Regions from separate parts of the Homo sapiens genome. Here all the other regions are reported to be linked to region 6. The links are microRNA targets in miRTarBase. Many come from high-throughput screens and were not tested one by one. Region 6 holds a microRNA gene; each other region holds the end of a gene's coding sequence.
The links. Region 6 holds the annotated microRNA hsa-miR-342-5p (AGGGGUGCUAUCUGUGAUUGA, at 1,476-1,496, opposite strand). A microRNA usually pairs through its seed, bases 2 to 8, with sites in the 3' UTR of a target mRNA and lowers its output. Matches are read on the target gene's strand: a 7mer-m8 pairs with bases 2 to 8, a 7mer-A1 pairs with bases 2 to 7 and ends in A, and an 8mer does both.

Region 1 (3,102 bases), not on the chromosome of region 6:
GACGCAGCTAATCCTGGAGGGGCTGATCAGTGCCCGTGTGGACTCACACAGCAAGGTGGCTGTGGGCTGCGGGGCGGTGGGGGCAGCTGGGGGTGAGCCTGGGCCCCGCTGAGCTTGTGCCTGCACAGATCCTATACGCCCGGGACGTGGATCAGCGCAGCACCACCTTTGAGAAGTCTCTGTTGATGGGCAAGGAGTTCCAGCGCCGCGCCAAGGCCATGATGCTGCGGGCAGCTGTGCTCCGCAACCAGATCCATGTCAAGGTGGGCTGGCTTGAGGGGGGGCAGGCGCACGGCGTGTGGGGCCTGGTGGCTGTGAGCTGCTCCTTGTCTCCCCTGCAGTCCCCGCCCAGAGAAGGGAGCCAGGGGGAGCTGACTCCAGCCAACAGCCAGTCCCGGATGAGCACCAACATGTGAGGGGTGAACCTTGGCCTCCAGGACATCTGCACCCCCTCCCCACCTCCACGGACCTCGGACCTCCAGGCGGCTCAGTGCTGCCTGCGGCCCAGCTAAGGGGCCTGGCCACTGGGTGCCACCCAGCCTGTGTGCCCTCCCTGGGGCTGAGGAGGCAGGCGGCTGCTAGTTGTGGCCCTTCCTGGAAGGAGAGGCCTGCAGGGCTCGACCCTGTGGGTTTCTGTCCCCAGGGAGCAGACTGTGCGGCACCCAGGCCCAGTGGCACCATTTCCCAGACCCCTCCTGTTCCCGCCTCAGTCAGGTGCAGACAAGTGGGCGGTGTCCATTAAAGAGCAGACTCAGCGTTGCTCTTGGCTGTTCTTTCCTGCCGTGCAGGCTCTGGTCACCCCTGGGTGGCCTTGGGTTCCTGAGGGCTGTCTCCCTGGGACTAGGCTTGGAGGCAGGGCCTGGTGAGAGAAATGAGAAGCCTGGCCCTCAGATTCAACAGCCCCCAGCAGCAGCCACTGTGGCCTCGCAGGCGGTGCTTCCAAGGCTGTGAGGCATCACGAAGCTCCCGGAGGCTTTGGCCACTTGCCTATGGAGGCGCCTAGGGGAGGTGGGGAGGGGACCTAAGCCCCCACTTTTGTCTACCCAGATGCTGCCTTCATTTAGATGTATCCTGTTGTTCAGAAGCCCCCACTGGCCCCAACCGCACCTGCCCCGGCTCATGCCTCCCTGGGTCTGAGAGGGCAGTGGTCACAGGCTGTGGGCTCTCGCATCTTTGAAATGATTTATTGTTCACTTTTGCACACGCGTGCTGAGGACAGGGCAGGTCCAGCCTGGGGCCTGCTCCCCACTGCAGCATTTCCAGGCCCCCAGAGTGGGCCGAAGGGGGACATGGGCGTGTCTTTCCACATTAAGTAGCAGGAGATTCCCTGAGTAAAAGGCATTTTCTTAAGTAGGACGTGTCCAGGCTCCAGCAGCAGTCCTGGGGGTGGGGGTTGTGGGCCTTCAGGCCAGGGCACTGCCCATGACTTCGGAGAAGCCACCTGGTGTTCCAGGTGCTGCTGGCTGAGGCTCCTGCAGCTCAGGCTGGGCCTCTTTCCAGGCCAGAGACTTCTCCAATTTGGTTTTAAAAAGCAATCCGTGACCTGGCAGAGCGAGTGAGAGGAGTCGGGGGTCAGGAGGCGGAGGGGGTCTGTTTGCCTGCTGCGGGGCGGGTGGTAGGCGCCCTCACCTGGGCAGTCTGCAGTCTCTTTGGAGGCTCGCTTCTTGCAGCAGCCGCGGCACAGGCTGAACACACATCTGTTGCCCTGGGCACAGGAAATCTCGGGAGCCTGTGGCCAGCACCACTCCCGGGGCCAGGCTGGCCAGCAGGGGAGCAGCCCCACTGGGGAAGCCTCTGCCAGATGCCCACGGCCTGGATGCAGCCCTGGGAACTGCTCCCAAGCCAGATGCCTCTCCCTCACCCCCACCCACCCAGACTCTCTTCCCCTCCAGGCCTGGGCAGGGGCTTGGCTGGAAGCAAGGGGCCGTCCTGAGGCATCCATGCCACCTTGAGCCACGTTGCAAACCCAGCTGGGCGGGCACCAGACCTGCCACCCCAAGCAGTGCAGAGACCACCCTGCCCACCCCCAAAGCTGAAGCCTTGGTGGCTTGCAGCCGGAACCCACTCACCTTTGGGTTTCCACACTGGTCACACTTTGCATATTTTGCTAGGAAAAGAACAAAAGGGTGCTGGTGAGTGAGGGCCAGGGTGCCCTGGCTGTGGGGGCTGCCCCGTCCGCCTGCACGGAGCCTGCTGATGGCGTCCATGCCAGCTGTGGCCAGCCAGGCCAGGAGGCTCAGGGAGGGCAGAGGATGCAGGCTGGCCACGTCTGCTTTTCCTTCCGTGAGCAATGGGTGAGGGGATGCAGGGGGCACCATCCTGCAGGAAACGGATAGGAAGCAGGTGGGCTGGGGGGCCGCCGCAGGACGAGCAGCCTTATCTGTCCTACCCCCAGGCAGGGACAAGGGGAGCAGTTTTCCTGCCCACAGGGTCCAAGGGGGGTTCCATGCCCTTCAGTTCCAGGTCTCCCAAGCAAAAGGGCCAAGAAGGGTCAAATCAAGAATTCAGCCTGAAGCCCCACTTCCTGCCTCTCCCAGCTGCCTCATTCAGTGGCCTGGTGGGGGGCAGTGTGGCAGGCAGGGACTGCTGGCACCAGCCTGATGTGGCAGCTGCTCTTGGACTGGCCAGCGCCCTGGGGGTTACATGGGAAGGTTTCAGGGTTATCGCTGGTCTCCCCTGCAGCTTGTAAAGTTGTCAGAGATCTGGGAGGCTGCCACCTGTTGAGGGCCCAGATGGGCTGGCCCAGGATACGGCGGCGACCAGGGGTCTCAGGGGAGACAGCACTAGGCTGAGGCCTTGCCACTGGTGGCTAAGAGAGGGGCGAGCAGCCTCGTCCCGTGCCTTTGGCCCAGCAACAAGACCCATGCACACACTCCCGGGGACCCCAGCCTCCCTCTCAGCAGCTGCTCAGGTGTCCTGTGTGAGGCTGGGCAGGGGCAGCCGCAGGGACCCGAGGCCCTGAGCTGTAGACGAGCTTCACCTGGCTGAAAAGCTTGTCCCATAGCCTCATCTGATTCACTGAGCCCATGTCCCACATGCACGGGCTGTGGCCTGCACAGGGTCCCCGTTCTGACCCCAAGTCTGGCTGACTACTCCGCCAAG
Region 2 (3,000 bases), not on the chromosome of region 6:
CTGCCCCCTTTTCTGCGAGCGTTGGTTTCATCCAAGTAATATCTTGGGGGCTTCTCCCGCCCCATCTGTCCAGTGGAAGTTGATGGCATGGATCAGGTCTGAGTTTGGCCTGGGGCCATGACTTGGCTTCTCTTGGCTTCTTGGAGCCTCCATTCGAGTGGGTCAGAGCAGGCGGGGATTAGAGCCGAAACTGAGAGGGGCCGGACTCACAGTGATGTGCACCTCCTCCCGTCCAGGTGGGGCCTGCCTGGGGAAAGCTTGTGGCCGGAAGAGAAAATGAGCTTCCTAGGACCCCTGACTCACGACCTCATCAACGTTGGTGCTACTGCTTGGTGGAGAATGTAAACCCTTTGTAACCCCATCCCATGCCCCTCCGACTCCCCACCCCAGGAGGGAACGGGCAGGCCGGGCGGCCTTGCAGATCCACAGGGCAAGGAAACAAGAGGGGAGCGGCCAAGTGCCCCGACCAGGAGGCCCCCTACTTCAGAGGCAAGGGCCATGTGGTCCTGGCCCCCCACCCCATCCCTTCCCACCTAGGAGCTCCCCCTCCACACAGCCTCCATCTCCAGGGGAACTTGGTGCTACACGCTGGTGCTCTTATCTTCCTGGGGGGAGGGAGGAGGGAAGGGTGGCCCCTCGGGGAACCCCCTACCTGGGGCTCCTCTAAAGATGGTGCAGACACTTCCTGGGCAGTCCCAGCTCCCCCTGCCCACCAGGACCCACCGTTGGCTGCCATCCAGTTGGTACCCAAGCACCTGAAGCCTCAAAGCTGGATTCGCTCTAGCATCCCTCCTCTCCTGGGTCCACTTGGCCGTCTCCTCCCCACCGATCGCTGTTCCCCACATCTGGGGCGCTTTTGGGTTGGAAAACCACCCCACACTGGGAATAGCCACCTTGCCCTTGTAGAATCCATCCGCCCATCCGTCCATTCATCCATCGGTCCGTCCATCCATGTCCCCAGTTGACCGCCCGGCACCACTAGCTGGCTGGGTGCACCCACCATCAACCTGGTTGACCTGTCATGGCCGCCTGTGCCCTGCCTCCACCCCCATCCTACACTCCCCCAGGGCGTGCGGGGCTGTGCAGACTGGGGTGCCAGGCATCTCCTCCCCACCCGGGGTGTCCCCACATGCAGTACTGTATACCCCCCATCCCTCCCTCGGTCCACTGAACTTCAGAGCAGTTCCCATTCCTGCCCCGCCCATCTTTTTGTGTCTCGCTGTGATAGATCAATAAATATTTTATTTTTTGTCCTGGATATTTGGGGATTATTTTTGATTGTTGATATTCTCTTTTGGTTTTATTGTTGTGGTTCATTGAAAAAAAAAGATAATTTTTTTTTCTGATCCGGGGAGCTGTATCCCCAGTAGAAAAAACATTTTAATCACTCTAATATAACTCTGGATGAAACACACCTTTTTTTTTAATAAGAAAAGAGAATTAACTGCTTCAGAAATGACTAATAAATGAAAAACCTTTAAAGGAAACTGTGTCTTAGCTTCCTTCGTATGATTTAATCTGCCTTCAACTCGCTGGCCTGGATGGGGATAAGGGCTCTGCTTCAGGGAACCTCCACCACCCACAGTGTATTTGAGAGGTTGCCCAACCAAAAGCCCCTGCTGCTGGCTTCTGGGGCATCGATCTTTCTCCAAGTTTGGCTTGTACTTTAACAATGAGGCCAGGAGTTTGAGACCCACCTGGACAACATAGCTGTCCAGTGGAGAATCACTTTGTACCATATAGCTACAAAAAAAAAAAAAATTACCCAAGATTGGTGGTGGTGCATGCCTGTGGTCCCAGCTACTCAGGAGGCTGAGGTGGGAGGATCGCTTGAGCCCAGGATTTCGAGGCTGCAGTGAGCTATGATTGCGCCACTGCACTCCAGCCTGGGTGAGACAGCAAGATCCTGTCTCGAGAGAGAGAGAGAGAGAAACAGAAAGAGACAGAGAGGAAAGATGGCTGACCTAAGAAAATGCAGAAGACAGTCAAAGGTAACCATTTTCCTCCGAAACAGTCCCCTCTGAGGAAGACCCACTCTCATGCGTGGCCATGTAAGGCCATTTGGCTTGAGAAGTTTAAGAAGTGATACCCAGCAGCAGGTTCAGCTCCACCCTTACTCAGATGCACCCATTCCCATTCTGGCCCTTCCTCCTCCCCTTGAGGCCAGAAATCCGTGGGGCCCGGGAATGTGTTCACCTGCAGCCCACATCCCTACCTCTAGACCACGCTCTGGATACCAGATACTGGAATTCCCTTCCCCAACCACCAAGCCCACTTCCAGGGCTCACTCAGCCTCAGGCCTGTGCCACCCTCCTGAGAGCGGGCCCCGTGCTGAGTGTGCACACCTCTAAGCCAGAAATGTGGCAACAGAGCTGTTCGTGGGGAGTGTGGGTGGGGCTCACCATGCAGACTGGAGCATATGTGGGTTTGCATACGAGGATCCTTGCGATCCCAGAAGGAGCTGGGAGGGAAAGAGAAAGCTGGTGGAGGGTATGCTCAGAGAGAGCTTCCCAGAGGACAGTAAAGGGCAAAAAACATTTTACCAGGCAAAGAATAGAACAGAGAGGAGGGTCAGGCCTTTCAGGCAGAGGACAGGACAACTAGATGTCTGGTAGGAGAGGGCAGTGCTGAGGACTTATGGAGGATGATCAGGAGGGGGTGAGCGGCGTGGTTCAAGGAGATGCACAAGAGGGTTGCTGTAATAATCCAGGGAGGGGTGACACAGCCTGCCCTAGAGTGGTGACAAAGTAGATCCATCCATCCATCCATCCACCCATCCACCCACCCATCTGTCCACCTACCCACCCATCAACCCACCCATCCACCCACCCACCCAACCATTCTTCCATCCATCCATGTCTCCTTCCACCCATCCACCCACCCACCCATCTATCCACCCACCCATCCATCCATCCATCTATCCACCCATCCATCCACCCACCAGTCCATCCATCCATTCATTACTTCACTCGACAAAAATATCCATTGCTGGTTTTTCCT
Region 3 (3,000 bases), not on the chromosome of region 6:
TGGCCAATCACACTACCATGTCCCTTTAATTGACCAAGATAATACATATTAAACCTGTAGCACAGGGCCTAACACATAATGAGCACGCAGTAAATGGAGGCCTTACTCTCAGCTTTTTCTACGTTCTTCCTTCTTGCCACAGGACCGCCTGGCCCGGTGCACCATGCATTGCAACGACAAAGCCAAAGATTCAATAGATGCTGGGAGTAAGGAGCTTCAGGTGAAGCAGCAGCTGGACAGTTGTGTGACCAAGTGTGTGGATGACCACATGCACCTCATCCCAACTATGACCAAGAAGATGAAGGAGGCTCTCTTATCAATTGGAAAATAAAAGTATTTGCCAGTGGCCATCAGGGCTGAGGGCAAGAATATATTTTTTATAAGGAATTGGGAATTTTAGTCTTTTAAGCAAAGTTTACGAATGAAGAAATGAAGGATGGCCACAAGCGTAAGGCATATGTCACTTGCCTCTGGACACTGGTTATTTTATGTTTCAGTCCCTAAAAAATGAAATGGAAAAAAGTGGTGCTAAATCGAGTCAGAGATATTACAGGAGAGTTTTAGAGCTTATTATTTCCTGTGGCCAGTGCTTGTCCTGGCAGTAAGGCTTTCCCCTGTAACAAGCCAGAGCCCTCCAAGGTACCAGACTCTTCTTACTACACAGGTACTAACAGGCTGGCAGGTTAGAGTTGGTGGAGTCTGAGGAGAGATATTTTCTCTTTGTTGCCAACATCCTGTTTACCAAAAGTGTCACCCCACCATCTTCCATAAGCTGTGAAACAAAATCAATGAGGTCACTAACTTAGAAGGGAAAGAAAGTTTTCTGGGTCTTTGTTTTCTTGATTTGGGGTAATTTATACAAGGGCATACAAGTTGATTTTAAGATGTGGAACTGGGAGGTAGACTAGTTTGGATAAGAACTTTGAAATGTTCCTTGTGGATCCCCATTTCTGGTCATCAAGATGTGGATGTACATTTCTTAAAATTATTACATGCTGCATCTTTCAGCCTGGAGACTGTGCAGAAACATGAGAGGTGATGACACACTAATTATGGGAAGCAGAATTACTGGCTGATGGCCCCTGAGGCTGTGTGTAACAAAATGACAGGACAATCTTGCAGTAACACTTTCCCCTTGAAGAGAAGGGGGTTTTGATTGTGATATATACTAGTATCTAGGAATGAACAGTAAAAGAGGAGCAGTTGGCTACTTGATTACAACAGAGTAAATGAAGTACTGGATTTGGGAAAACCTGGTTTTATTAGAACATATGGAATGAAAGCCTACACCTAGCATTGCCTACTTAGCCCCCTGAATTAACAGAGCCCAATTGAGACAAACCCCTGGCAACAGGAAATTCAAGGGAGAAAAAGTAAGCAACTTGGGCTAGGATGAGCTGACTCCCTTAGAGCAAAGGAGAGACAGCCCCCATTACCAAATACCATTTTTGCCTGGGGCTTGTGCAGCTGGCAGTGTTCCTGCCCCAGCATGGCACCTTATTGTTTTGATAGCAACTTCGTTGAATTTTCACCAACTTATTACTTGAAATTATAATATAGCCTGTCCGTTTGCTGTTTCCAGGCTGTGATATATTTTCCTAGTGGTTTGACTTTAAAAATAAATAAGGTTTAATTTTCTCCCCACTATTGAGTCTTCTTTCCTTATATCTGGGTGGTGAATATGTAACTTTCTCAGGATGCTTCTCCTTTTAACAGGTTAAATGAGTTAAAATGTCCAGAAGAGTGGAAATTAGTTGTTATGGTTCAGATGCAGAACTGGTTCACTGTAAATGGGAAAAACTTTGAGAGGAGACTAGGACATTGTGACTTGAAGTTCATTAATGTAGAAAAGAAACTGTCTATGAGGCTAAAAAGAGAAATTCATTATCTATGTCAGGTCTCTAGCTTCAACTAAACACTAATAGCAAGTGGTAGTAAAGGTACAAAGCTATGACCCTGCTAGAAAAAATTCAGTGTCTAGGATTTTGAGTACTAAGAGAGTGCAAAATATGTGATGAGTTTAAGTCTTTACTATCATTGATATTTATATAGAGCCATTCCAGAATATCAGGAATTAACTGAATTTTTGAGAACTATCCCCTATTTAAACACAAGGTATTCTATTTTGGTTTAGTCTTCTATAATTTTGGGGTAACAACTGGGAACAAGTCCGAGACCACTTTTTACACATCTTGACATGAAAAAAGAACACCTTATATTAGAAAATGTTTGTGTGCTGCACTTCACATTTTATATACAGGGGCAATAGCACATCAGTGAGTTCTGGAGGTAGTGTTTGAAAAATTTCAGAATTCCCAGGCATGCTGGCTAACCCCTGTAATCTCAGCACTTTGGGAGCCGGAGGCAGGCAGATCTCTTGAGGCCAGGAATTTGAGAACAGCCTGGGCAACAAAGCAAGACCTCGTCTCTACAAAAAAAAATTAGCTGGGTGCAGTGGCGTGCGCCTGTAGTCTCAACAACTCAGGAGGCTGAGGTGGAAGGATTGCTTGAGGCCAGGAGTTCGAGGTTGCAGTGAGCCATGATCACACCATGCTCCCCAGCCTAGGCGACAGAGCAAGAACTCATCTCAAAAAAAATTTTTTTTGCAAGACCCCTCAGTCAGAAATAGATTCAAATTCTTGGAGACAGACCCAGTCACCTTACTCTACAATGGTTCAGAGGCTGCTAATTTACATGTTACGGGAACCCTACTTGGTCTGACAGTATGCTGTAGGGTTACCTGCCAAAAAAATATAGAGGCCCAGCCGGGAGCGGGGGCTCACGCCTGTAATCCCAGCACTTTGGGAGGCCGAGGCCAGCGGATCACGAGGTCAGGAGATCAAGACCATCCTGGCTAACACAGTGAAATACGGTGTCTACTAAAAATACAAAAAATCAGCCCGGCGTGGTGGCGGGCACCTGTTGTCCCAGCTACTCGGGAGGCTGAGGCAGGAGAATGGCGTGAACCCGGGAGGCAGAGCTTGCAGTGAGCCGAGATCG
Region 4 (3,093 bases), not on the chromosome of region 6:
AGCCACTTCAGTGGGGGCAGCAACAACTATTGGTATATGTCCTGGTTTATGCAATGTCTCTCAAATGCCACATCTGATTCCTATGCTTGCCCCGAGAGACACGTGTTTACAAATAGGGAAATGGTAGCTCAAAACGGGGAGGGGCCTTGCTCAAAGCTTCATGGTTAATGAGGAAACCAGGTTTTCAGATTCCAGATCTTGTGCTTTTTTTTTTTTTGGTAAACTCAGGGGTCTGTGAGTTCTTTAGGAGCAGGATTTTCTGTTTTCAATGTGATAATCTTGAAAACAAAAAAGCCAAAACCCCATTGGCAATGAAAATTTGCAATCTGAAAGACGTTTTAGGGGAACAGGCGTTGGTTTTTGAGTTGTCTTTGCAGTACTTTAGGGCCTGCAGAGATGGAAAATGGATAAGCGGTTTGCTTGTTCCCAAATGGGAGGAACAATGAGTTTTACCAGGCCCTTTCATTCGGTGATAATGTATTTTAAAAATCTCATTTTCTCTTCAAATTTATTTCAGTCTGTTTTTGATATGACTTGAATTAAAAAAAGAAAAAAAAAAAAAAACTTCAGGTGATGTAGCCAGAAGTTGAGCTAAAAGCAGAGCTTTCTAGATTGGAGGTGGTTGCTAAGGAGTCCTTCCATTCAGATGGGATCAGCCTGCAGCTGTGATGGTTTCACACTGAGGCCAGCAGAATTGTGCCCAACTGAGCTTTCTTATGAGGTGGCCCCACAGGCCTCGGAGCAGACAGACCAGCCGGACAGTGGAGGTGCCAAGCACCATCCGTGCCGGAACGAGCCCTGGCAGTCACAAGAGAAGCGGAAGCTTCTGGTGGCAGAGGGAGGCGGGAGCTCTGCCACCCGGGGGAAGCTCCCCAACTGCTGCCGTTTTGCACAGGCCACAAGATACGGCAAGGAAGGCCAGGGATGAGCTAGAAAGAGGGATTCTCGTGAATCCTGAGATAAAACCAGGATTCAATAATAGCTGACAGCCATCAGAAAGGTGCAAGTTCCTGTCATTTTGTTTCAAATTCCCTAAATTGTCATCTTTTGAAGTGAACTTTCCACGTGCAGGCCTTTTTACCATTTCACAAAAGCCCTTTTATGTGTGTGGATCCATTTGGGCACCTAGGACAGATGAGAAGGTCGAGGCCCAGAGACTTTGTGCTCCAGGGCTGCGCAGCTGGTTCTGTCTCCAGCAACACAGCTCTGACAACCAGCGGGAGTAGGCTTTATTGTTTTATTTTTATAGGGTAAAAAAGCATAATTGAGAAGTAGCTAAGTCCCTAAACGACACTCATGGAAAGCTGTGGTGGTTCCACAGCCAGCCCATAACAAAGCCACTGCCATTTGCCTCATAGCAGTTTAATGAAATGGCAAACAGCACCCGGGAGGAAATGAACAGTGCCATAGGTTGGAAACTGAAACCTGCACATTTGTGGCAAATGTCACTGCATTTACAGGGAGAGAAAGAAAACCACATGACTCTTCTTTGTATGTTAAAGACTTTTTATTTTCAGGCCCTTTCAGAGGAATCAATTCCTTTAAACCTTTGTAAAATGCCACAGGAGCCAAGGTTAAGCGATGCTTTTAACTTAGGAACTGACCCTCTCCAGGCAGAGTCTCCAAAGTAGATTACCTCGAAATTTCAAAGAGGCAGTTCTACAAGAGGAGCCTTTGAAGAAGCCAATCCTGTTTTCCATTGTTTTGCTTTCACACACGGGTTGAACTTGAACTCTTACCTTTCTCCATTTATAACAACCAAAATCCACCTTAAAAAATCAAAGGCTGGGAGCGGTGGCTCATGCCTGTAATCCCGGCATTTAGGGAGGCCAAGGTGGGTTGATCACCTGAGGTCAGGAGTTCGAGACCAGCCTGACCAATATGGTGAAACCCCCATCTCTACTAAAAATACAAAAATTAGCAGCGGCGGGTGCCTGTAATCCCAGCTACTCAGGAGGCTGAGGCGGGAGAATCGCTTGAACCCGGGAGGCGGAGGATGCAGTGAGATTGCGCCACTGCACTCCAGCCTGGGTGACACAGCGAGACTTTCTCAGAAAAAAAAAAAAAATTGCAAGTAATGGCTTCTGTGGAAGCAAATCTTGATTTAGGGGCACACAACCTGAGACTCCACCCGCTCAGGATAGACAGACAGGAAAGCCAAACGCTCTCTGGGGACCACACTTGGGGCTGCCCACACTGCTCTGTAGTTGCCAAGAGGGTGGGAAGTAGAGATAACAAAGAATGTGGAATGAAGCTCTTTGTCATCGCCGTCTCGGATGGTAGACTCCCGCCTGGGAGAGGCTGCTGGCTGGCTGCTGCCAGGCTCACACCCCCACAACTGCAATTCCTCTTTCCCAGTCACACTGCTATTTATTTCTAAACATCAGCACTGTAATCAGAATGATTTCCATGAAAACAAAAGCTCATTTTCCTAACTTGCGCTCCAATGCGTATGTCGTTAAAGGGCTGAGATTAGAGTCTGGTGGTTTTCCTGTTTCAACCTGACTTTCTGTCCCCAGGGTATATAAATAAACTACTCTTAAGTTTGCTCCTCGAATGACAATCAGTTTTATTGCATGAGTTATGGTGTCCAAATGAGTTAATTTGCTTTTTTCACCGTCTGAGTCAAAATAGGCCACCTGCAGGCCTCATGCAAAATGTAGAAACTGGATAGATGATTTAAGCCTCAAAAACGCAAGTGATTTTTTGGGGTGCACGCAGGAGAGGGCGGATCTGGGGTGTGGTCAGCAGATGACCAGCCGTGGCCTTGAAGGCAGTTTCCAGTCTCTGCAGCTGCGGGATGAGGGTGAAGCCCCCCATTTGCTCTGCTCAGCCTCTCTGTTGAGTATTTAAGAAATCCTGATTCTCCGTGTTCTGCCAGGGAGGATACTGCAGAAGAGTGGACTGGTGTGGCCATTATTTCAGCATCTTCACCATGTACGGGCCTTGTAATCTGTAGCCGATCTTTCTATAATAATTCCTGGTGCCGACCCCTGCAGAAAAATCGAAGTTAAAAAAGGAGCATTCACTTTAGCAATTCTCAAAAGTCGGCATGTGCTTCCCTCAGCCTTACACTCTCTCCCACCCAGAGAC
Region 5 (3,109 bases), not on the chromosome of region 6:
TGTTCCCCAGACACCCCCTGATACCCACTCTCTTCTTTACAAGCCTCCACCCCATCCCCCCAGCCTTCTCAAGGAAGGAGGTGAGAGCCGGAAATACAGGAGGCCACACGTGATGGGGCTCTGCCCCCACCCCCCCCCCCGACATCCTACCCCCCACTCCCACCTCACATCTTTCTCCTCCCTGGGACCGTCTCCCACAGAGCTCTCCCCCCTCCCTCCAGAGCGGAACCTGAATCCCAAAGCAGCCTGTTTGAAACGGCGAGAAGAGGAAAAGGTGTCAGGTGTGGTTGGAGACCCCCAGATGGTGCTTTCAGCTCCCCACCCAGGCCTGAGCGAAGCCCACAACCCCGCCGGGCACATGTGAAAGGTATGCCTCCGTGGGACGAGCCACCCGCTTTCAGCCCTGTGCTCTGGCCCCAGAACGGCCACTCGAGACCCCGGGCTTCATCCACATCCACACCTCACACACCTGTTGTCAGCATCGAGCCAACACCAACCTGACAAGGTTCGGAGTGATGGGGGCGGCCAAGGTGACACTGGGTCCAGGAGCTCCCTGGGGCCCTGGCCTACCACTCACTGGCCTCGCTCCCCCTGTCCCCGAATCTCAGCCACCGTGTCACTCTGTGACCTGTCCCATGGATCCTGAAACTGCATCTTGGCCCTGTTGCCTGGGCTGACAGGAGCATTTTTTTTTTTTCCAGTAAACAAAACCTGAAAGCAAGCAACAAAACATACACTTTGTCAGAGAAGAAAAAAATGCCTTAACTATAAAAAGCGGAGAAATGGAAACATATCACTCAAGGGGGATGCTGTGGAAACCTGGCTTATTCTTCTAAAGCCACCAGCAAATTGTGCCTAAGCGAAATATTTTTTTTAAGGAAAATAAAAACATTAGTTACAAGATTTTTTTTTTCTTAATGTAGATGAAAATTAGCAAGGATGCTGCCTTTGGTCTCTGGTTTTTTTAAGCTTTTTTTGCATATGTTTTGTAAGCAACAAATTTTTTTGTATAAAAGTCCCGTGTCTCTCGCTATTTCTGCTGCTGTTCCTAGACTGAGCATTGCATTTCTTGATCAACCAGATGATTAAACGTTGTATTAAAAAGACCCCGTGTAAACCTGAGCCCCCCCGTCCCCCCCCCCCCCCGGAAGCCACTGCACACAGACAGAACGGGGACAGGCGGCGGGTCTTTTGTTTTTTTGATGTTGGGGGTTCTCTTGGTTTTGTCATGTGGAAAGTGATGCGTGGGCGTTCCCTGATGAAGGCACCTTGGGGCTTCCCTGCCGCATCCTCTCCCCTCAGGAAGGGGACTGACCTGGGCTTGGGGGAAGGGACGTCAGCAAGGTGGCTCTGACCCTCCCAGGTGACTCTGCCAAGCAGCTGTGGCCCCCAGGGCTACCCTACACAACGCCCTCCCCAGGCCCCCCTAAGCTGCTCTCCCTTGGAACCTGCACAGCTCTCTGAAATGGGGCATTTTGTTGGGACCAGTGACCCCTGGCATGGGGACCACACCCTGGAGCCCGGTGCTGGGGACCTCCTGGACACCCTGTCCTTCACTCCTTTGCCCCAGGGACCCAGGCTCATGCTCTGAACTCTGGCTGAGAGGATGCTGCTCAGGAGCCAGCACAGGACACCCCCCACCCCACCCCACCATGTCCCCATTACACCAGAGGGCCATCGTGACGTAGACAGGATGCCAGGGGCCTGGCCAGCCTCCCCCAATGCTGGGGAGCATCCCTGGGCCTGGGGCCACACCTGCTGCCCTCCCTCTGTGTGGTCCAAGGGCAAGAGTGGCTGGAGCCGGGGGACTGTGCTGGTCTGAGCCCCACGAAGGCCTTGGGCTGTGCGTCCGACCCTGCTGCAGAACCAGCAGGGTGTCCCCTCGGGCCCATCTGTGTCCCATGTCCCAGCACCCAGGCCTCTCTCCAGGTCTCCTTTTCTGGTCTTTTGCCATGAGGGTAACCAGCTCTTCCCAGCTGGCTGGGGACTGTCTTGGGTTTAAAACTGCAAGTCTCCTACCCTGGGATCCCATCCAGTTCCACACGAACTAGGGCAGTGGTCACTGTGGCACCCAGGTGTGGGCCTGGCTAGCTGGGGGCCTTCATGTGCCCTTCATGCCCCTCCCTGCATTGAGGCCTTGTGGACCCCTGGGCTGGCTGTGTTCATCCCCGCTGCAGGTCGGGCGTCTCCCCCCGTGCCACTCCTGAGACTCCCACCGTTACCCCCAGGAGATCCTGGACTGCCTGACTCCCCTCCCCAGACTGGCTTGGGAGCCTGGGCCCCATGGTAGATGCAAGGGAAACCTCAAGGCCAGCTCAATGCCTGGTATCTGCCCCCAGTCCAGGCCAGGCGGAGGGGAGGGGCTGTCCGGCTGCCTCTCCCTTCTCGGTGGCTTCCCCTACGCCCTGGGAGTTTGATCTCTTAAGGGAACTTGCCTCTCCCTCTTGTTTTGCTCCTGGCCCTGCCCCTAGGTCTGGGTGGGCAGTGGCCCCATAGCCTCTGGAACTGTGCGTTCTGCATAGAATTCAAACGAGATTCACCCAGCGCGAGGAGGAAGAAACAGCAGTTCCTGGGAACCACAATTATGGGGGGTGGGGGGTGTGATCTGAGTGCCTCAAGATGGTTTTCAAAAAAATTTTTTTAAAGAAAATAATTGTATACGTGTCAACACAGCTGGCTGGATGATTGGGACTTTAAAACGACCCTCTTTCAGGTGGATTCAGAGACCTGTCCTGTATATAACAGCACTGTAGCAATAAACGTGACATTTTATAACGATGCCCTGCAGTCCCCGGGTTCTTTCTGGTGTCACATGTTTAGGAAGGGAAGTGGGGGGGGGCCCTGACGTTCACCTCGGGTGCAGCAAGGACCGTGGTCCACCCTGTGCACTGGGCTTCCTCGAAGCGACTCCTCACTCTGAGGAGCCCATGGCTCCCAGGGCGGCTGGGAACCTGCATGTGTACTCAGGGCTCCAGGCCACCTGGAAGCAGGATTGGCTCCCGGGGAAAAGCAGCTCCCTGGGGGCTGCACTTGGGCGCGTAGGAACCATCCAGGACCTGCGGTCCTCCCAGCCCCCATCTGGGAGGGCTCCCCATCTCCCAACGTCCCC
Region 6 (3,110 bases):
AAAAAAAAAAAAAAAAAAAATGAGGACACTAAGGCTTAGAATGGTGAAATGGCTTGCTCAAGGTTTCACAGCTGCTCCATGTGACAGGGTGGAGCGGGTGCCTGGAGCTAGGGCATGGTACCCTGTCACCTGCCCCCACAATCTGTGCCACTTCTGTCAACCACTGTGCTGACCATGGCAGGCACACCTCAGCTGGCTGCTTCCTGAGCCCTACCAGGAGGCGTCAGGAAGGTGCTGGTGAGGCAAGGCTGGGGAATGAACCACCACCTATCTCAAACCCTGACTGGGCACATGGCGCCTGGGCTGTATCTACAGAAGACTAAAACTCCAAAGGAATCTCGCCATTAGCGTTAGGGAGATAATCCTGGGACTGGTGGAAGGAGGAGACCTCTCTTCTCTAGGATGTAAACTGCAATAAGCCAGCAGCTCTTTTGAGGAGGACAATGGCAGCAGCAGGATGCAGGTGGGATGCTCTGAAATTAGGGGCACCCGTGAGGCATGCACAGTACTACCAATGTGCCGAGGGAGACCCCCAGGGTCAGACAGAGCCTCTTCTCAGATCTTGATTTGAACTTCCAAACCACCAAGATCTGCTGGTGCCGCCGTCCTCCTCCTCATCAGATCCCCCCATTCACCCCCAGCCCTGCAGGGCCCAGGTTCAAGCCCCGCTTCCCTCAGAAAGTGTTCTCTGACCATCAGGATCCAAGAAGCCTGGCTTCCCTCTGTGTCCCAACGTGATGGCTGCTGGCACCACACAGGAGTTGATATTGTTAGTTACCTTTTTTTTTTTTTCCTGAGACAGCGTCTTGCTCTGTTGCCCAGGCTGAAGTGCAGTGGTGTAACCATGGCTCACTGCAGCCTCAGACTCCAGGGCTCAAGCAATTCTGCTACCCCAGCCTCCTGAGTAGCTGGGACCACAGGCACACGCCATCACACTTAGCTAATTTTTAATGCTTTTGTAGAGACAAGGGTCTTGCTATGTTGACCAGGCAGGTCTCGAACTCTCACACTGAAGTGATCCCCTGACCTCCTAAAGTGCTGGGATTACAGGCATGAGCCACTGTGCACGGCTGATATTGTTAGTTACCTTTGCAAATAATTTTTTTAAAAAGAGTAACTTCAAACTGTTATAGTAATTTAGAGGTGACAAAGAATGTTTACAAACATCATCTCATGGTACCCTCACAACAACCCTGTGAGGTGAGTCTGATTCAGCCATTTCACAGATGGCGAAACTGAGTCTTAGGTCAGTGACATGCCCAAGGGCACACTCCTGGCACAGCTGGTACTGGAACCAGATCCGAGTTCACGTCCGAAGTTCCTTCCACAGTATGCACACCTCGGGGCCACAGCAGCTGAAGGCCCTTCCATAGGCTGTGGCTGGAGAAGGCGTGTTCCTCTGTTTGGGGTGGTGATAAGTAGGCCAAGGTGACGGGTGCGATTTCTGTGTGAGACAATTCCATTAACCATGTCCCTCAATCACAGATAGCACCCCTCACCTTGAGCCCAGTTTCACAGGTTGGCCAGCAAGCGGTCTTGGTTCAGGAACTCCATCTTAGTCTGCAGAGAAGGATGCAATGGCAGGAAGTGCCAGGCTATGAGAGGCACACAATATGACATGGGCGCAAGCTGGGAGCTTGTTCAGTCACCAGACACCTCTGATGTGTCAGTCTCTCTTCAGGGCTCCCGAGACACAGAAACAGACACCTGCCCTCGAGGAGCTCACAGTCTAGACAAACAAACCCAGGGTCCAAACAAATGGGACACCAACAGTGTGCGAGGACTGGGAAGGGGTGCCTGAGGTCTTCTGGGGCACTGGGAAGGCTTCACAACAGCAGGGCAAAGGATGAGCAGAAGGTGACCAGGAGTATGGAGAGAACATGCATGAGGGCAGGGGCGGGGCCCCTTTAGACGCAGCCCAGGGAGGACAGACTGAAGAAGGACAAGAGAAGGTGGATGGGTTACAACCCCATTACAACACTTCAGGGGAGAGAGTGTCAGGGGAGAGACGGTGAGAATATGCAGTGCAGGTGGTGAAAATGGGAGCCAGTGAGTCAGAGGGACCAGGGGCTCAGGCCAATGCACAGCCTTCACTGCTGGACATGGTCCCACAGGACCTCGATGCTGAGCTGGGGCCTGGGCTGAGTCAGGAGACAGGGCTCCAGGCACGGCAGCCTCTGGGTCCTGGTGTGTTCCTGCAGCCAGGGATGGATATACTGAGAGCTTATAAGGCAGACGATGTGTGGGTTTTTGGGGTCCAGAGACAAAGAGGCCACTTTCTGAATTTCCAACCTGACTAGATTCATGCAGTGGGAATAGCAGGACAGGCCAAGTGGCAGCTGACTGTTAGGACAGAGGCAAAAATAAAGCCCCGTGGGAGTGCAGGAGGGAGTGCAAAGTCACAGGGAGCGGGGCGGCTGGGAAAGGCTCCATCTGTGGAGCCACATTCTGACAGGACGAGTGAGATTTTAGAAGTGTGGGGAAAAGTGAGAGGGGAAGAAGGGCCAGGGGCACAGGAGAGCCTGAGTAAGAGTGTGACTGACGGTGCGACTTGGGTAGCTGTTGGCATGGAGGCGTACAAAGGCCCTGCCTGATACAACATCTGGAGCCCTGGGGTGAGAACAGGGGTGGGTCAGCAAAGAGACATATCCGGCTTTCAGAAAGTGGCCGCCAGAGGGCAGCTGGGAGCAGGCAGGAGGCCAGGGGCTTGCCGTCCTGTTCCCCTCAGGCAGGGCCATGCTGGGCCTGCTTTCTCTCAGGTGGCACAAGGTGTCAAATGGCCTCGGCAGCCAGGGAGATGAAGACAGTCCAGTACTTCCTTCTCTTTAGGGGAGAAAGAGGTAATTTCCAATGGAAAGAGGTTTACAAGAAGCAAAATTCAGCCCCACCTCCAAGAGCTATGAGGTTTAACAACCTTCCACTCCCCTCCAAAGAGCACATGGAGCTGGGCCTGACTCTTCCCGGGAAGGTCTGCCTGTAAGTCCCTTTCCGGGGCTCTTTCTCAACACTGTGCTGAAGGTGCAGCCCCTGGGCCACTGGGCATCAATGAAGGACATAAGAGGTTGAAAAACTGGGAAAACATTTATTATCCAGCACCAGGAGCTTCATAT
Region 7 (3,110 bases), not on the chromosome of region 6:
GAATCATCACCTGAATAGCATCCTCTGGGTAGGTGGTGTGTTAATATTGCCATATGGAAATTCATGGAAGATATAGTTCCTGGCCCTAGAAACTTACAAACTGAGACCAGGAGTTTGAGAGTGATTTGCACATGTCAGTCAAGTCAAAAGAAAGAGAAACTCTTTTTTCTTTTTTCGTTTTTGTTTTTTGAGATGGGGTCTCACTCTGTCACCTAGGCTAGGGTGCAGTGGTGTAAGCTCGGCTCACTGCAACCTCCGCCTCCTGGGCTCAAGTGATCCTCCCACCTGAGCCCCCCGAGTAGCTGGGACCGCAGGCACATGTCACCATGCCTGGCTAAAAAGGGAAACTTTTAATTTAATTCAATTCAATTTAATTTTTTTTTTTGAGACAGAGTCTCGCCTAGGCTGGAGTGCAGTGGTGTGGTTTTGGCTCACTGCAACCTCAGTCTCCTGGGTTCGAGTGATTCTCTTGCCTCAGCCTCCCGAGTAGCTAGGATTACAGGCACCCACCACCATGCCTGGGTAATTTTTTTTTTTTTTTTTGGTATTTTTAGTAGAGACAGAGTTTCACCATGTTGGCCAGGCTGGTCTCAAACTCTTGACCTCAAGTGATCCGCCCGCCTCGGCCTCCCAAAGGCGTGAGCCACTGCACCAACCGGAAACTTTTCAAAATATGGGTTTTATTTGAAAACCAAGCCAGACATTAAATCAAAATAATTTTTTTTTGCTTTTGTATGAACTCTCCAGTTTGTATACATAGATGATCTCAAGTTATAATTTAAATTTAGGAAAGTGCTGAGGATGAATAGATATTTGCTTTTTCCCAGGGTCTGGAGGGGTAGGAGCAGGGAAGCAGGGAAATGACATTACCGAGTGCCTCCTGTATGCCAACGATTTTTTGTTTGTTTTGTTTCAGAGAAGGAGTTATGCTCTGTTGCCAAGGCTGGAGTGCAGTCATTATTCACAGGTGCAGTCATGGCTCACTGCAGCCCTGAACTCCTGGGCTCAAGCAGTCCTCTCGCTTAAGCCTCCCAGGTAGCAGGTGCACACCACATGTCTGCTTTCCAAGGAGTTTTAGGTCAACCCTCACAACAAGCCTGTGAAGCAGCGATTGTTATTCCCACTTCTCTGGTAGCACACCAAGGTGCAAGGATTCCCTGTGGCTAGGTGGTTAGTAAGGTAGAATGGGGTGAGGTTTGAACCCAGTCCTGACAATCATCAGAGCTACGCAAGGCTGCCAAGAAGTAGAAAAAGATAGTGGCATTTTGGGTCCCCATTATCAATTCGAAAAATGTACAGTCTTAAGCTTGGAAGTCGGTCGTCTGGTTCAACCCTGCCTTTTGCAGAAGCAGGAGCTGGAACCCTAAAAAAATAAAGCTACTTGCCTGCAATTAAACAGGGTGAGAGGGGGCAGATGAAGTGTAGGCATGTGGGGCTGGATCTGGCCCTGCCCTGACACATAGAAAGCCTGAAATAGAAGTGAGAAAGGAAAATTCCAAGAAAGAAAAGGCAGAGAAGTGGCTGTTCTTACTCCCACACCTAAGGTGTGAATTCTTTTATTGAGTCATAATAATTTCCCGAGAATTCCGAGTCCTGCTACTTTAGGTTCTTGCCCAGGAATCCACCTCTTTTCCCCCAAGCCCAACAATCCTTTGAGGTACTCATGATTGAGCACGTGGTGGGGGGGGTGGGGAAGAGGCTGCATGGGGGTGGGGCTCCTGTGGCTTCACGTCATCCACTGTCACCTCTGGTCCCCAAGTCTCTGGATCCTTTGGTCTCACCTCTAGACAACCGTATCTTTCAAACCTTCTTCCCTGGCAACTCCTCTCTGTCCCGACAAAATCTCTCCCAAGGCATTGTCCTTGTAGTTAGATTTACACAGAGCTTTTGCTTTTATAAAGTGCGTTCATGCCCAGCTTCTCACTTGCATGTCATAGCACCCCTGGTGAGGTGGACAGGGAAGGGATGGCTCCCTCCATTTTGTAGGAAAGTGGGGGCTGCCCTCTTGATTCTTCAGTGTCGTCAGGGAATATTTACGAGCCCCAGCCTCACATGGGCCCAGCAGGGCTTCTTTAGCACAGGCTCTAGTTTTTTCTCTTGTTCCTTGGGTTTCCTAGAATCCCAAAGGACTCTCTGTGGCAGACATATTACAAATAGGCTGATGATGCATGTGTGATGGTGCAGCTGCAGTCGCCAGCTCTGTGTTGCTGGGTGGCATCCCTCCAGGCTCCGTGGCTGATCTCCCACTCCATTGTGGGCCCCTCCTGTCCCGTGCTTGCCATCCTTCCTGCTTATCATTCATTATCTAACCAGATTTCACGGGGATACACGTCTCCAACCTTCCATTTTGTCCAAATGGATCTATCTTGGTTTATTTTCTCTTGCCTAAATATTAGGCATGCCTAATGGGTTTCAAAAATTAATATAATTTATTTTCCATCTTGTCAGTGCAAAACAAAGGTGTTCTTGAGGCATGGCAGTGAAGACCAGAATCCCTCCTCCTCTTCTACTTCTGTTTCTTGAATCAGCAACAAGTAAACAACAGTTCTGTAAACATGTGTGGGTCTGTGTCCATGTGTGCGTGGATGCACCGTTTTCTTCCATTCTTAACTGGTTTCGGACACGTTAGCTACCAGTGGCCTTCTTGTCTTGTTCAAAACGGTGATTCCCGTAACATCTGGACTTTCATCAGGGCCCGTTTCAGCTGCTCATAGGTTACGAACATCACCACGTTCCAGGATCCCAAACGCAAAAAGGAGGGTGTAAATCTGATAAGAAAAACAACCAACACATCAGGTGGAGTGCTAGGGGACCACAACAGATGCGTGTGCTCTCCCGGGACACAGTGGTAGTGCCAGAGGATCCAGACTTCTGTTCATCACAAGCATTTTCTGAATCCTTTCAGTCTCTCTCTCTCTTTTTTTTTTCTGCTAAGGGGATTTAGGCAGAAGTCGGAGTAAGGAAAAGAAAAAAAAACTCACGTTTTGAGACGGGTTACTGTGTTAGGCAGCGAATTCTCACAGTTCTATAAGGCAGCCATGTTGCTGCCAGGCTCTTTTTCACAAACTGAGGCCCAGGGAGGTTAAGAGCTCAACCAAAGACCCGCGGCT

Region 1: miRTarBase lists GPS1 as a target of hsa-miR-342-5p. Seed matches in the 3' UTR shown: 7mer-m8 at 445-451.
Region 2: the mRNA of ELN is a reported target of hsa-miR-342-5p. Seed matches in the 3' UTR shown: 7mer-A1 at 383-389, 7mer-A1 at 516-522 and 7mer-A1 at 871-877.
Region 3: miRTarBase lists FAM136A as a target of hsa-miR-342-5p. Seed matches in the 3' UTR shown: 7mer-A1 at 752-758.
Region 4: miRTarBase lists ELP3 as a target of hsa-miR-342-5p. Seed matches in the 3' UTR shown: 7mer-A1 at 2,735-2,741 and 8mer at 2,708-2,715.
Region 5: miRTarBase lists TCF3 as a target of hsa-miR-342-5p. Seed matches in the 3' UTR shown: 7mer-A1 at 1,639-1,645 and 7mer-A1 at 1,644-1,650.
Region 7: the mRNA of UCP3 is a reported target of hsa-miR-342-5p. The part of its 3' UTR that is shown has no 7-base or 8-base seed match.

Annotation. Positions count from the first base shown.
Region 1 is chr17:82,056,712-82,059,813 of GRCh38, forward strand. GPS1 (G protein pathway suppressor 1) reads left to right here. Exons shown (of 13, transcript NM_001321092.3): 11 at 1-55; 12 at 129-263; 13 at 342-759. The coding sequence ends at 416. It overlaps DUS1L (dihydrouridine synthase 1 like), which reads right to left. Exons shown (of 14, transcript NM_022156.5): 12 at 2,070-2,107; 13 at 1,630-1,705; 14 at 795-1,543. The coding sequence ends at 1,404. Among named protein-coding and RNA genes, the nearest start is that of GPS1, 6.4 kb to the left of the region's middle.
Region 2 is chr7:74,068,421-74,071,420 of GRCh38, forward strand. ELN (elastin) reads left to right here. Exons shown (of 33, transcript NM_000501.4): 33 at 237-1,487. The coding sequence ends at 280. Among named protein-coding and RNA genes, the nearest start is that of ELN-AS1, 7.6 kb to the left of the region's middle.
Region 3 is chr2:70,294,620-70,297,619 of GRCh38, reverse strand. FAM136A (family with sequence similarity 136 member A) reads left to right here. Exons shown (of 3, transcript NM_001329752.2): 3 at 143-1,644. The coding sequence ends at 331. It overlaps LOC124906023 (a long non-coding RNA gene), which reads right to left. Exons shown (of 2, transcript XR_007086880.1): 2 at 1,606-2,562. Among named protein-coding and RNA genes, the nearest start is that of SNRPG, 2.4 kb to the right of the region's middle.
Region 4 is chr8:28,189,549-28,192,641 of GRCh38, reverse strand. ELP3 (elongator acetyltransferase complex subunit 3) reads right to left here. Exons shown (of 15, transcript NM_018091.6): 15 at 1,489-2,993. The coding sequence ends at 2,917. Among named protein-coding and RNA genes, the nearest start is that of ELP3, 98 kb to the right of the region's middle. RefSeq lists an enhancer at 286-1,038.
Region 5 is chr19:1,608,962-1,612,070 of GRCh38, reverse strand. It overlaps TCF3 (transcription factor 3), which reads left to right. Exons shown (of 19, transcript NM_003200.5): 19 at 222-2,779. The coding sequence ends at 364. Among named protein-coding and RNA genes, the nearest start is that of UQCR11, 5.1 kb to the right of the region's middle.
Region 6 is chr14:100,108,059-100,111,168 of GRCh38, reverse strand. MIR342 (microRNA 342) reads right to left here and starts at 1,514; the gene lies at 1,416-1,514. All of the region lies in intron 3 of EVL (Enah/Vasp-like), which reads right to left. MIR151B (microRNA 151b) reads left to right here and starts at 1,655; the gene lies at 1,655-1,750.
Region 7 is chr11:73,998,759-74,001,868 of GRCh38, forward strand. It overlaps UCP3 (uncoupling protein 3), which reads right to left. Exons shown (of 7, transcript NM_003356.4): 7 at 1,519-2,768. The coding sequence ends at 2,654. Among named protein-coding and RNA genes, the nearest start is that of UCP3, 8.8 kb to the right of the region's middle.